Linked DNA regions of Homo sapiens: region 2 is linked to region 1. The links come from fine-mapping of genetic effects on gene expression. Tissue or cell type: whole blood. Region 1 holds a variant in brackets; the other region holds the start of a gene. All regions are shown on one strand. Distances are from middle to middle.

Region 1 (8,282 bases):
TTCTCCTGGCTACATGTTGCTAGTCAAGTACTTAACTTCAATTTTCCCATGTGTAAAATGCGGCTGACACCCTCTACCTCCCAGAGCATTTGTGAGGAGCAAATGAAGTATGGGAGAGGGGAGGAAACTCACAACCAGCATGAAGAAGATGGGGCCAAGTTTGTGTGGGAGTCTCCTTTCCCATGCTCAACACTGCTCCCATCCCAAGAGCCCCTGAGGGAACTGGAGTCAAATGCCTAGCCTGGCATTTTTAACTGTCTGCTCTGCCAGAGTGACAGGGCCTCTGGGTGGGAGGAGAGGTTAGGGGAAGACTGTGAGCCTCAGGCTTAGTGCTTTGAGAGCCCTTTTTAAAGAATGAGGCTCCTCCTCTGCCAGCACTACCCCCCAGCTGTCCCGCCCCCAGGGTCTCAGTGCAAGAGTCAGCCCCACCTGGAGGAAAGTTATTTTCCCATCAAATCCTGAATCCAGGTGGAAAGGCAAGGTTGATATGGAATCCAGAGCCTCAGTTCCCTGCCAATGGGAAGCAAACTCACTCCTTGATTTTCCCATCTGTGAAATGGGACCACAGCCAGTAATTATGAGGTGCTATTTGAACTGGTGGGTAATCTCTTTTATTATTATTTATTTATTTATGTATTTATTTTGAGGCAGAGTCTTGCCCTGTCACCAGGCTGGAGTGCAGTGGTGCGATCTCGGCTCACTGCAACCTCTGCCTCCTGGGTTCAAGCGATTCCCCTGCCTCAGCCTCCAGAATAGCTGGGACTACAGGTGTGCGCCACCACGCCCGGCTAATTTTTTGTATTTTAGTAGAAACGGGGTTTCACCATGTTGGCCAAGATAGTCTTGATCTCCTGACCTCGTGATCTGCCCGCCTTGACCTCCCAAAATGCTGGGATTACAGGTGTGAGCCACTGTGCCCGGCCTTTTATTATTTTTTTAATTTTTTTAGAGACAGGGTTTCACTCTAGCCCAAATGAGAGTGCAGCAGAGCCATCATAGCTCACTGTAACCTTGAACTTCTAGGCCCAGGTGACTCTCCCGAATAGCTAGGATTACAGATGTGCACCACCATGCGTGGCTAATTTTTTTCTTTTTTTTTTTTTTTTAGAGACAGGGTCTTACCATGTTGCCCAGGCTGGTTTCAAACTCCTGGCCTCAAGTGATGCTCCCGCCTCGACCTCCCAAAATGCTGGGATTGCAGGCATGAGTCACCACACCCAGCCTGGGGTGACCTCTAGAGGCTGCTGAATCCATTGCCCTGCCTTCTACACTCACTCTTACCCACTCCACCCCTACCTGCAATAGGATTATCTCTGCTGGCGAAACAACCAGCCTCTTTGGAGATGGCAGCCCACCATTTGTCAAGCCAGGAAGACCTTCTGACAGTCTACCTTAAATCTCTCTTTGGTACCCTCAGGGAAAATTGAAACAACGAACAGCAAAAAGATAAATGCATATGGATAGGCAATGCCACACTATTTTTTTAAAATACCCGCAAAGAGGGTGGGAGAGCGGGAATTACCTTCAGACACAATGCTCTTTACACTAAACATCTTGGCGAAAAATATGGCTGTGTAATTCTTTTTTCTCCTTGGCAAAGAGAAAGGCTGAGGCTGGGCAGAAAGGCAGAGGGACCCGAAAATATAAATCAATATGTGACTTTAATATATGTGCTTTCGGTGTCTGTGTGTGCTGGGGGATTATTAGTAACCTTGATTCCAGCTCAGTGTCCATGCGAGGCAGGGAGATGTGCGGCCCCCAGGGAGGAGAAGAGAAATTAGGAAGCCAAATTCTTCTCCTGATTGACACCTGGGTAAACATTATCCTGGCAGAAAGGGAAGAAAAAAAGATCAATGCTGGGTATTTTTATCACGTTCCAGGGACAGACGGGGGGGAAATTAAAGAAACAGTCCCCTAGAATCACTGAATATGCCCATCTTCAAGGAGTAGCTAGATAAGGCGGAACCCAGGTGGAGGAGTATGGGTGGGAGAGAAATGGGCATGTCCCAGGGAGCAGTGGCCATTGCTTCTTCTACCCTGATGTATGTGAGTGGCAGCAGGTACAAAGGAGCCATGGCTTTAGTTGCAGGGTGAAGGCAGCAGCTTTGACGGGGAATCGTAGGCCAGAGTCTAACTCAAATCAGACTTCGGCTTCAACAGAGGCCCAAGAGGCATTTGTCTTAATGGGATTTGTCAGGGGGCTGTTTCTAGTGGAAGATTCCTGGAGTGTGGGAAGGGGGCAGTGGCTGCAGGAGGGGCTGGGTGTAGTGAGTGATCCAGTGTGGGTCAATGCCCATGGGGAAGCAGGGACATCTCTCTGGATTGTCTCAGATCTAGAGTCAGGAAAACCTGGGCCTCCACCCCTTCCTGGCTATATGACCTTGACCAAGTCATCTGACCTCATAGAGTCTCACCTTCCCTGTCTGTAAAATAGAGGCAGGTGGCCCCTACCCCACTGGTCTCAGAGTTTTTAAAAGAGATTATACAAAACACTGGACAGGGCTGAGGGGCTATTGTTATCTGGGGAGCCCTGCCCACTAGAAATATACTGTAAGCCACATATACACTTAAAAAAATTTTTTTAAACTAATTTGTTTAAGAGACAAGGTCTCCGTCTGTGGCCCAGGCTGCAGTGCAGCGGCACAATCATAGCTTATTACAGCCTCAACCTCCTGGGCTCGAACAATCCTCTCACCTTAGCCTCCTGAGCACCTGGCTAGTTTTGGGGGATTTTTTGCTTGTTTATTTGTTTGTATTTTTTGTAGAGATGGGGCTCTCACTATGTTGCCCGGACTGGTTTCAAATTCCTGGCCTCAAGTGATCCTCCCACCTCAGTCTCCCAAAGTGTTGAGATTACAGGAATGAGCCCCTGCACCCAGCCCATATATGTACTGTTAAATGTTCTGTTGTTGTTGTTGTTGTTGTTGTTGTTGTTGTTGACGACGGAGTTTCGCTCTTGTTGCCCAGGCTGGAGTGCAATGGCGCAATCTCCACTCACCGCACCTCTGCCTCCTGGGTTCAAGTAATTCTCCTTCCTCAACCTCCCGAGTAGCTGGGATTACAGGCATACGCCACCATGCCCGGCTAATTTTGTATTTTTCATAGAGATGGGGTTTCTCCATATTGGTCAGGCTGGTCTCGAACTCCCAACCTCAGGTGATCCACCCACCTTGGCCTCCCAAAATGCTGGGATTACAGGCATGAGCCACCATGCCAGGCCAATGTACTGTTTTTGGTTTTTTTTTTTGAGACGGAGTCTCGCTCTGTCGCCAGGCTGGAGTGCAGTGGTGTGATCTCGGCTCACTGCAACCTCTGCCTCCTGGGTTCAAGCAATTCTCCTGCCTCAGCCTTCTGAGTAGCTGGGACTACAGGCGAGCACTGCCACGCCCTGCTTATTTTTGTACTTTTAGTAGAGACGGGGTTTCACCATGTTGGCCAGAATGGTCTCCATCTCTTGACCTCATGATCCGCCTGCCTCGGCCTCCCAAAGTGCTGGGATTACAGGCGTGAAGCACCGCACCCGGCCAATGTACTGTTAAATGTTCTAATAGTCACATTTAAAAAAGTAAAAACAGGCCAGGCACGGTGTTCACGCCTGTAATCCCAACACTTTGGGAGGCTGAGGCAGGAGGATCAGTTCAAGACCAGCCTGGGCAACATAGGGATATGTCACGTCTACAAAAAAAGTAGCCAGGAGTGGTGGCGCATACCGTAGTCTCAGCTACATGAGAGGCTGAGCTGAGAGGATCACTTGAGCCTAGGAGGTCGAAGCTGCAGTGAGCTGTGATTGCACTGCTGCACTCTAGGCAACAGAGTGAGACCCTGTCTAAAAAAAAAAAAAAAAAATGTGAAAAGAAACACTTCAAATTAATTCAAATTAAATATGTATTATATTATATATAATATATATAGTATATATTATATATATTATATATTATATAT[A/TATATATA]GTATATAATATATATAATATTATATATATTATATATATATATTATATATATTTTTTGAGACAGTTTCATTCTTGTTGTCCAGGCTGGAGTGCAATGGTGCAGTTTCGGCTCACTGGAACCTCCACCTCCCAGGTTCAAGTGATTCTCCTTCCTCAGCTTCCCGAGTAGCTGGGATTACAGGCATGCACCACCACGCCTGGCTAATTTTCTATTTTTAGTAGAGATGGGGTTTCTTCATGTTGGTCAGGCTGGTCTCAAACTCCTGACCTCAGGTGATCTGCCCACCTCGGCCTCCCAAAATGCTGAGATTACAGGTGTGAGCCACTGCGCCCGGCCTCAAATAATATTTTTTAACTTAACCCAATATATCTAAAATATCATTTCAGCATGTGGCACTAGCCACATTCCAGGTGCCCTGAAGCCACATGTGGCAGGAGCTACCGCACCGGGCCAGCAGAGATCTGGAATGAGAAGCCCACAGGATAGGAGCTTCTGCCCCGACCCCTGCCCCCTCCCTGTGATAGTGAGGAGGGACCTCTGGAGGCAGAAGGTGAAGTGAGCCCCTGAGAAATACAGGGCAGAGCCCCCCTTTTGCTGGGGGTGGGAGCAACTTTCTGGCCTCTGAGGCATTACAGTGCCCCAGCAGGGGCTCTCTGGGGGAGGCAGACTAATGACCACTTCGCCAGGATAGGGGCCGGGCTGGGGCAGACACTGAGCTCTCCTTTCCAGAGTCTCCTGGCAACTAGAGCAGCTGGTTTGGAGGGAAGAGCCTGACAGCTGGGCTTGGGTACTTCTCATTCCCAGTCAGTGCCTAGTCTTCTGGCTGTAGCATCTAAGGTAAGGCCCCTCTTGGAACTGCACCATCACTCAAATGGGAATAGCTGTGATCAACCCTGCTTTAAAGGCTGTAAAAAGGTTTCTTATACAAAGACAGTATGCTTGTAAGCCATGAACGTGCGCGAGGAAAAGAGAAAGTGAGGAGGGAGGGAGGGAGCCCCTTTTGAGGCCGCCCCTCCCTTGGTTGGCTATTGCTGGCTGTACTCCCAGAGTCTGCAGGGGCCCTCCAACTTCAGTGGGAGGCTGGAGAAAGAGGGTAGGATGGGCGGCCCAGAAAGGGTGTGATTTTCTGAGAGCCACACAGCACATCCAGCAGTGGGTGAGCTGGACACGCTGGGGTGGGGCCAGGATACCCAGGACCTCCTTCTCAGCTGCTCTAGGCGCGAGGGTTTGTGGGAAGGAGTGGACAGGGCTATTTCAGGGCAATGCAAAGGCAGCCGAGTGCTGGCTGGGAGGCCCTCGTGGGTCTAGTCTGACATTTTCTGCTGATGCTGGGAGCCAGGGAAGGGGACCTGGAAACCTGAATCTCACACCTGGGCCAGCTGATCTTGTGCCCAAGTGGTCCCAGCCCCTACTTCCCACTGGTCTTCCCTGTCCTAGCTGCACAATTGCCCTGCCTGGGGAGGAGTGTGGAGAGAAGCACCAGGCTACCCCAGGACCAAGCCCCCAGCCCACCTGCCAGGTCCCGAGAGCCACAGTGAGCCCTCAGTTATATCTTTGTTTTTGTTTTTGTTTTTGAGTTTCACTCTTTCCAGGCTGGAGTGAAGTGGCGCAATCTTGGCTCACTGCAACCTCCGCCCCCAGAATTCAACGATTCTCCTGCCTCAGCCTCCGGAGAAGCTGGATTATAGTCAAACCACCATACCCGCTAATTTTTGTATTTTTAGTAGAGACGGGGTTTTGCCATGTTGGCCAGGCTGGTCTTGAACTCCTGACCTCAGGTGATCAACCTGCCTCAGCCTCCCAAAGTGCTAGGATTACACTTTGAGGTGCCCAGCCCCTCAGTTATTTCTTTTGCAGACTGCAACTAAGGGATAGATCTGGGATTTAACTTTATTTATTTATTTATTTATTTATTTATTTATTTATTTATTTTTAGACAGGATCTCCCTCAGTCACCCAGGCTGGAGTGCAGTGGCACAAACATGGCTCATGGCAGCCTCAACATCCTGGGCTCAAGAGATCCTTCCACCTCAGCCTCCCAAGTAGCTGGGACCCTAGGCACGCAACACCACATCTAGCTAATTTTTTGTATTTTTGGTAGAGACCAGATTTTGCCACGTTACCCAGGCTGGTCTCAAACTCCTGGGCTCAAATGATCTGCCTGCATCAGCCTCCCAAAGTGCTGGGATTATAGGTGTGAGCCACCTGGCCCAGCCTCTTCTTTTACTTATTTATGTATTTATTTTTACACAGGGTCTTGCTCTGTCACCCAGGATGGAGTACAGTGGCATGGTCATAGCTCACTGCAGTCTACAACTGCTGGACTCAAGTGATCCTCCCTCCTCAGCCTTGCAAGTAACTAGGACTACAGGTGCATGCACCTGTAGTGCATTAGCACAGCGAGCTAATTTTTTTTCTTTTTTTGTGCAGATGGGGCTTCTCAATGTTGCCCAGGCTGACCTTGGACTCCTGGCCTCAAGTAATTCTCCCACCTCTGCCTCCCAAAGTGTTGTGATGACAGGTGTGAGCCACTGCACTTGGCCTTTCTTTTTTTTTGAAACGGAGTTTTGCTCTTGTTGCCCAGGCTAGAGTGCAATGGCACAATCTCGGCTCACTGCAACCTCCCCCCTCCCAGGTTCAAGCGATCCTCCTGCCTCAGCCTCCTGAGTAGCTGGGATTACAGGCATGCACCACCATGCTTGCCTACTTTTGTATTTTTTAGTAGAGACAGGGTTTCTCCATGTTGGTCAGGCTGGTCTCGAACTCCCAACCTCAAGTGATCCGCCCGCCTTGGCCTCCCAAAATGCTGGGATTACAGGCATGAGCCACCGCGCCCGGCCTTTCTTTCTTTCTTCTTCTTCTTCTTCTTTTTTTTTTTTTTTTTTTTTGAGATAGAGTCTTACTCTGTTGCCCAGGCCAGAGTGCAGTGGCATAATCTTGGCTCACCACAACCTCCACCTCCCAGGTTCAAGCGATTCTCCTGCCTCGGCCTCCCGGGTAGCTGGGACTACAGGCATGTGCCACCATGCCCAGCTAATTTTTGTATTTTTAGTAGAGACAGGGTTTCGCTATGTTGGCCAGGCTGGTCTTGAACTCCTGACCTCGTGATCTGCCTGCCTCAGCCTCCCAAAGTGCTGGGATGACAGGTGTGAGTCACCACACCTGCCATTTCTTTCTTCTTGTTTCAGGTTTCTTCCTTCTTGGTTCCATCCTACAAAGAACTGTTTCCATAGACATCCTCTCTGTACAGCTACTTTCAGCCTATTCTTCCCAGTTAGAGACTTACAGTGATTCCTAGTGTCTACCAAATTCCCTTTCAAACTCCTTGGTTTGGGATTCCAAGAGCCCTTCACCATCAAGCTCTTTCCACCTGACACAAACAGTAACCTTGTTTCCGGCCCAACTTGCTGTGCCAACTGGCCCTGCCTAAGGCTGTCCAGCCTCTCTGCCTTTGCCTGGGCCGCTTCTCCTCCTGCAACATCCTTCTTCCTCTCCACACCCAATTCTGCTGATTGAAATCCATCCATTCTGAAAGACCTGGCTCAAATGCCACCTCTTCTGGGAGGAATCCTTACCAGGTAGCCTCATCAGAAATGCTTGCCCTCCTCTGATCCATCTCCCGTAGCCCCTTGCATGTCCCAGGCCCTGGATCTTTCTCTCTCACAGCCTCAGACTCCCGGTAAGCCTCTGGAAATGGAAGCCCCTGGAGGGCAGAGCTATCCCAGCTGTCCATGAGTCCTCTCGGAACCCATTTCCCACCATTGCACTTCCTGCCCTGCTCGCTCCCCACCCCAAGGTAACACCAAGGTCGGATGTGAGAAAAAAATAGATGAAACAAGATTTTGCACATCACATTGTAAAACCCGCTCAGGCGCTCCCCTCCTCCCAATATTCTTACTGGACTCCCGCCTACCCTTGGCTCTGGTCCCTCTGGCTCCTCCCCATCCACCCAGTCCAGATGTCCAAGCCTGAGCAGCTCACCTGGAGAGACACCGTGTCTCTGTCTCCATCTCTTAGTCTGGGTCTCTGTCTGTGCTGCCAGTAGACCTCTGGCCTCCCCCATCAGACTGGGATCACTGGGAATGTGAGGACCTACCTTTTTTTGTCTTTGTCTCCTTTTCCCATCCCATTCAGTGGAGGATTTCAAAAAGCTTTGGAGACACACTTAACAAGATAAAAAATGAGAGAGGAAGCTGGAGGTGGGAGAGGTCCTGCTTCCTCCTCCCCCAGCCTCGGTCTCTGGCACCTTGCCAAGGTCACCTTTCAGAGCAACCTATCACGGGCCTTTGTCAGGATCATTCATCCTCCTTTCCAGCGCCCTCCGCCCTTGCCAACCCAC
Region 2 (6,780 bases), 120 kb before region 1:
GGGAGACAGAATAGGGGCCACTGCCAACTCCATCGCTTAATGTTAATATTAACAGCAATAGTAGCAACAGAACCGACTGGAGAAGGCTTTCTGTTTGGTGGGCACCACTGAAGCACCAACATGCATGGTTGAATCCTCACAGTAGCTCAGAGAGGCTCTCCCAGGCTGTGTGCCCTCAGGCAAATTAGCCCCTTGGAGCTTTAGTTTCCCTCTCTAAAAGGGAGGTGAAAAGAAACTCTATCTCATAGGGCTGTTGTGTGGATTCAGTGGGAAGATGCCCATGAGTGTTTCGCACCCAGCGGGGCTCCAGCAATGGCAGCTGTTATTTAGTTTGCAGGAGCCCAGGATCCCAAGTGTCAGAGGCAAGCAGAGCTAGGAGTTGAGGAGAGGGATGCAAGGGCTGAACCATTTGGGGCAAATCCTAATTCTGGGAATGGAAGTCCTGACTGAGGGGCAATAGGGACCCGCATCCTCAATGCCCAGAGCAGACACATCATGGCCCTTCCCACACGGGATTAGTCCTGAGGCTTAGCTTCTCTCCAGGCAGAGGGAGGGGAGAACGGCAAAGGGCCCCACCCACTGTGCCTTCAGAGTAGAAGCATGTCAGCCCCCTCCACCCTCACCCCCACCTCCTGCCTGTAGCAGGAGCCATGCCATTCTCTGGAGAGAGATGTGGGCAGGTGGAGGCGTGAGGACAAAAACAAAAGTGGCTGGAAGAGGAGCCCAGAATAAAGACCGGATTCTGCCATCATCTTGTCCTATGGGGTGGGGGACTCTACCTGCTCAGGGGGCCGGGGCATGCTCTCCAGGCTCTGCACCCTCGCCTGCACCTCCTGCATGCTCTCCTGTAGTGCTCGAACTGTCCCCAGCAGCCACACGTCCAACTCCTGGGGCCCCGGCGGGCTGCCCCGCAACCCCTCTGCGGAGCACAGACACACAGGGAAGGGGGCTCAGGAGGCAATTCAGCTCTGGGCAGGGTGGGGGCAGGCTGGGGCAAGCCCAGGAAAGTGTAGGAGTGGAACCCAGTCGCTGTACCAAGTGTGATTCTTGCAAAGTCCATCTATGTAGCTGAGTAATGGGCTGCTATGGGTTTAATCCCAGCATGGCCGCTTATGACACAGATCAAGTCATTACCTTTTTTTTTTTTTTTTTAGACAGTCTTGCTCTGTTGCCCAGGCTGGAGTGCAGTGGCACAATGACCTCGGCTCACTGCAACCTCCGCCTCCTGGATTCAAGCGATTCTCCTGCCTCAGCCTCCCGAATACCTGGGATTATAGGTGCCCACCACACCCGGCTAATATTTGTATTTTTAATACAGACAGGGTTTCACCATGTTGGCCAGGCTGGTCTCAAACTCCTGACCTCAGGTGATCTGCCTGCCTTGGCCTCCCAAAGTGCTGGGATTACAGGCGTGAGCCATCGTGCCCGGCCAAAGTCATTAACTTCTCTGGGCATCATTTTGTCATCTAAAAATTAGGAGAAGATGTCATTTCTCTCACAGGGCTGCTTGCTCAGAGGAAAAAAGGAGAAACTTTTCAAAATGTCCATACAGGACCTGACACACAACAGGAGTTCTAGAAGGGAAGAGGGCAGAACTCATTGTCTTCTGAGATTTCCAAACGGGGGAGTCCAGAGAATATGGATGACTTCCTGAGGCTGTGCAGCTGTAGGTGGGAGAACTGGGCTAGGACTCCCATCCCGCTGGCCTTACTCAGGACCTGCAGAGGGTGCAGACTCCTGGGTGCCCTTTGGGGAGAGGAGGGAGGGCGGGGACTTTGCCCATCCAGGCAGGTATCTGGCTGGTTGGCAGCCCTTCCTGGACAGAGGCTTCTCGCTCAGTGCCCAGCAATGGACTTTCAACTCTGCCCTAGGAAGGCAGCCAAGAGAAAGCCTGGGGTGCCAGGACCACGGGAAAGGGCAGAAGTGGGTGAGAGGTTGGGTAGGAGCTCACCTTTCTTTGTGGGGGGCACGGGGCTGTTCCTGGGATCACGCTTTCCTCCAGATGCTGCCCGCTGCTCTGTCCAAACCTGCTGAGATGAGTCAGAGAGCTGAGGGTGGGAGTGGGAGCACAGTGGGGTGGGAAAAGGGGGGAATGGGGACTGGGCTCACCAGCTCAGGCTCCAGCTGCTCCAGGGAATCACAGAAAACCTCGGAGTCCAGGTCCCTGGGTGAATGGGACTCTGTGGAGGGGTTGGTAGAGTTACTGCCCAGAGGGAAGCTGTGGAGGGAGAGCAGGAGTGTGCACTGGGCAGAAGCACCTGTTTAGGAGACACTAGAGATACGAGGCACTAGAGATATCAACACCTGAGGCACAGATGGGCGCCAGAAGCAAGGCCCTGGAACAGGAATCCTAGACCCCGGTCCCCACCTTTGGGAGCACAGGAAGTCTCAGTGTCTGTGGAGGGCACAGCGTGGCATCCAGCCTTCTCCCCTCCAGCCCTCCCCCAGCCTGAGTTTGGTCCACCCCTCCTGCTCAAGCACTAACCTGGGCTTGGGGGTGCCGGTTCCTTGGGGAGGCAGGGAGGCTCTGAAACAGCCCCAACATCTCCATTCACAACCTGCTCTTTCCAACCTGCCAAGACACAGCACCCAGAGGTGGGCCTGGGGAGAGGCTGGCACCTCCCAGTGTGATCAAGCCCCTACTCGTGATGAGCCGTGGATGCTGCCTGGGATCCACCTCTCGGGGGCTTGGGGGCCCTAACAGGGATGTCGCCTGGAGCCCTCTGCCCCCAGCCCACCTCAGCCTAGACCTAAGACGGTTCACTCAGCACTTTTGGAGCTCCCAGCCTGGGAGTCTGACCTGTGACCCTTCTCAGGAAGGTCTCTGGGGGCCTCGGCATGTCAGGGATCACCTGGTACAGGGGCTCGAAGTAACCAAACATGTCCTCTGCCACCTCACCCAGGGGCACTGTGTCGATCACCTGTAGGGGAGGGGGTCTGTTGGGGACGGAGTGGCCTCCTGTCCCTTCCTCCCTGCTCCTGCCCTGTCACACACCTCCACCCTGTGCCCAGTCAGGGGCCAAAGATAGGCAGGGTTGGGGGTAACATGAAGGTGGTGATTCCCATGAGGGGGTCCATGTGTAGGAAACGTAGTGGGGGTCAGAACTGGAAGGGTGAGGCCACCTGGCCAGGAGCCTGGGGACAGAGAACCTGCAGCCCTTACCTTCTGTGCCACCAGTTTCATTTCAGTGATGTAGGCAGACATGGCCTCCTCCCTGCTCATCTTGCCCAGACTGTTCCAGGCGTCCCTGGGGGCAGAGGGCTGTGAGAGGGCTGCTTGACAGCTGAGGCTTGTCTGCCCAGCCAGCAGGGAGCTCACCACTTATATCGTCCAATGGGGTCCCAGAACCCGGGCCGGGGGACCAGGCAGGGCCCCATGGTGGCCTGCTTGTAGTAACTGTAGAATCGCAGCATCTCTTCATAGGAGGGGCGGTAAGAACCTGGGCAGAGAGTTGGGAAGCCAGGGCAAAGCATCACTCCCAGCTCCAAGGGGCGGAGGGGCGGGAGAACCCTGCTTGGAAAGGGCAGAGGTGGTGATGGGTCCCACCCAGGGCATCTGGACTAGGATAGGAAGCGGAGGGAACCCCCAGGACAGCCCAGGCAGGGGCTTGTCTGCAAAAACTGCAGTGATCAGGACCATTCTTTCTTCAGAGTCAGACCCCAGGCGTCCTGAATGCGAGTCCAAATGCGAGTCCCCGCAGCCTCACCGTTCTTGGGCAGGTTCTGGATGACGCTCACTGCAGCCTGGAACTGTTTCTGGCAGTCGGGCTCTGGGCTTTCTTTCTCGGTGCCCATGCTGCTGCGAGCCCTGGGGCCCTACTTTTGAGCGACTCTGCAAGAAGCAGCCTTCGTGTGAGGGGGCCTCCAGGGTCCCCCCGGCACCATAAGCCAAGGATTCACTTCCCAGAGGGGCAAACTAAGCTCTTTAGAGGCCTCAGACACCCTGGGAGGTCAGAAGTTGTGGTTGAGGAGCCTCCTTTTCCTACCTCAAGGCAGTGTGGTGGGGTCAGGGTCGCCAGGTGGCGAGGCAGGTGGCGAGGGCCTCAGTGCCAGATGTGTCCGTCCCCAGATGCGCCTCCTTTAGGTGCACATCTCCAACTCCCGAACAGGTGGAGAAACAAGATAGGAGTACTCAGGGCGGGGCGAACAGTCTCCCACCCTGGCCGCCTGCACCTTGGCCCAGCGTGTGCCCCGCGGCGCCCACTGCCAGGACACCTGGGTCCTCTCTCGCCACCACCCCGCGGCTTCCTACTGACCCCGGGGTCCAGCAGGGCCGGGATGGCGACGCAGATCGAGGGGGGGAATTTAGGCCAATGAGAGAGCCTGTTTCACATTCGGCTTACCTACCTCAACCATTCAGCACAGCTCTTTCAAGATCATGCAAATAGTTTCTCAGAGCCTTTCCCAATCAGGCGGGGCTTAATCGAAGGGTCGGACTTCCCAGCCCGGGATGGCCAAGGCGGGCGGCAGCGCCCCCTGGTGCACATAGTGAAAGGTCGTGGCGTCCTAGCGCCCCCTGGTGGAAATCCGCATCTGTTCGCTGATATCCAGGCCTGGCCGATCCGAGGCAACCCACTCAGCTCTCTAGACACTTAGGCACTGGGGATTAAAAAAAGTCATGTCCTGTGGTCAGGTGTTCTAGAGGAAGGACATCACAGCTCAGTTTTGGAAGATGGTCGGGCACGGTGGCTCATGCCTGTAATCCCAGAACTTTGGGAGGCCAAGGCGGGCGGATCACCTGAGGTCAGGAGTTCGAGACCAGCCGGGCCAACATAGTGAAACCCCATCTCTACTAAAAATACACAAATTAGCCGGGCGTGGTGGCGCGCGCCTGTAATCCCAGCTACACGGGAGGCTGAGGCAGGAGAATCGCTTGAACCCGGGAGGTGGAGATTGCAGTGAGCCAAGATTGCCCCACTGCACTCCAGCCTGGGCGAGAGTGAGACTCCATCTCAAAAAAAAAAAAAGAGTAAGCAAAATGGACATCGCAGAATGATGGTTACCAGAGGCTGGGAAGGGTACTGGGGAGGGGGGGAAATGGGTACAAAAATACAGTTAGAATGAATGAGATCCAGTGTTCGGTAGCACAATACAACGATTATAGTTACCAATAATTTATTGTATCTTTTTATTTTGTTTATTTTATTTTATTTATTTATTTTTTTGAGACGGAGTCTCACTCTCTCCCGGGCTGGAGTGCAGTGGCGTGATCTCGGCTCACTGCAATCTCCGCCTCCCGGGTTCACGCCATTCTCCTGCCTCAGCCTCCCGAGCAACTGGGATTACAGGCGCTCGCCACCACGCCCAGCTAATTTTTTGTATTTTTTAGTAGAGACGGGGTTTCACCATATTAGCCAGGATGGTCTCGATCTCCTGACCTCGTGATCCGCCGACCTCGGCCTCCCAAAGTGTTGGGATTACAGGCGTGAGCCACCGCGCCCGGCCTATTGTATCTTTTTAAATTAATTATTTTAAAAACAATTTTTGTAGAGGCAGAAGTCTCATTATGTTGCCCAGGCTGGTCTTCATTCAATACCTGGCCTCAAGTGATCATCCCACCTCTGCCTCCCAAAGTGCTGGGATTACAGGCGTGAGCCACCGCATCCGGCCAATTTATTGTATATTTCAAAATAACTGGGCGGGAAGTGGTGGCTCAGGCCTGTAGTCCCAACACTTTGGGAGGCCAAGGCAAGAGAATTGCTTTGAGGCTGCAGTGAGCTATGATCATGCCACTGCACTCCACCCTGGGCAACCAAGTAGTGAGACCTTGTCTCTAATAAACAAATAAAATACAAATACAAATAACTAAAAGCGGAATTGGAATGTTCCTAATACAAAGGAATGATAAATGCTTGAGGTGATGGTTACTTCAATTACCTTGATTTGATCATTACACATTTTATACCTGTATCAAAACATTACATGCCTCTCCATAATTCTCTGCAACTATTAAGTGTCCATAACAATTAAAAGAAATGTAGACTTAGCCTATCCAACAACAAGAATAACAAAAGGGTAAACCAGGAGAATAAGGAAGGTTGTTTCTGGAGGAAGGAACGGCAGGATCAAAAGCACAAAGGCGAATACGATAATCAAGAAGAAAATTCAGGGCCGGGCGCGGTGGCTCACGCCTGTAATCCCAGCACTTTGGGAGGCCGAGGCGGGCGGATCACGAGGTCAGGAGATCGAGACCATCCCGGCTAAAACGGTGAAACCCCGTCTCTACTAAAAATACAAAAAATTAGCCGGGCGTAGTGGCGGGCGCCTGTAGTCCCAGCTACTTGGGAGGCTGAGGCAGGAGAATGGCGTGAACCCGGGAGGCGGAGCTTGCAGTGAGCCGAGATCCCGCCACTGCACTCCAGCCTGGGCGACGGAGCGAGACTCCGTCTCAAAAAAAAAAAAAAAAAAAAAAAAAAAAAGAAAATTCAGGACCCCAGAGTGGCGTAGGGACCCAAGCCAGTGTGCAGAATCTCTGGGCCTGGGAGATCTGAGGATGGGGTAGAGCAGGGCAAGTAGGTGGCAAATCAGGCCCTGAGCACTAGCCTCTCTGTAGGATGCCACGCCGCTGGCCGCCGCAAAGTGGCGGTGTGCGCCCATGTCTCTGCCGGACCCAGGCCACCGGCCGCAGAAACGCTGCCACCTGGACGTCCCCCACTTCGCGCACGCACTCTGGTGCTTGCATATAAATAGTAAGTGCACACCCGACTCGGCCACCAGAACCTGCACACGGATGCCCACCCACGGGTTGACGTCGCGGACAACTACACCGCGGGTGCCGGG

What was found. PIP is the estimated chance that this variant, and not a neighbour inherited with it, causes the effect.
Region 2: ACBD4 starts here. The variant in region 1 is fine-mapped to the expression of ACBD4 in whole blood (INTERVAL, PIP 0.90).

Annotation. Positions count from the first base shown.
Region 1 is chr17:45,009,985-45,018,266 of GRCh38, reverse strand. It overlaps LOC107987243 (a long non-coding RNA gene), which reads left to right and starts at 4,266. Exons shown (of 6, transcript XR_007065771.1): 1 at 4,266-4,780. RefSeq lists an enhancer at 4,857-5,643. The variant A/TATATATA (reference allele first, on the strand shown) is at 3,943.
Region 2 is chr17:45,133,160-45,139,939 of GRCh38, reverse strand. ACBD4 (acyl-CoA binding domain containing 4) reads right to left here and starts at 4,253. Exons shown (of 10, transcript NM_001135705.3): 1 at 3,987-4,253; 2 at 3,708-3,832; 3 at 3,320-3,440; 4 at 3,164-3,248; 5 at 2,801-2,921; 6 at 2,486-2,572; 7 at 2,110-2,180; 8 at 1,952-2,027; 9 at 780-919. The coding sequence starts at 3,795. RefSeq lists an enhancer at 6,632-6,701.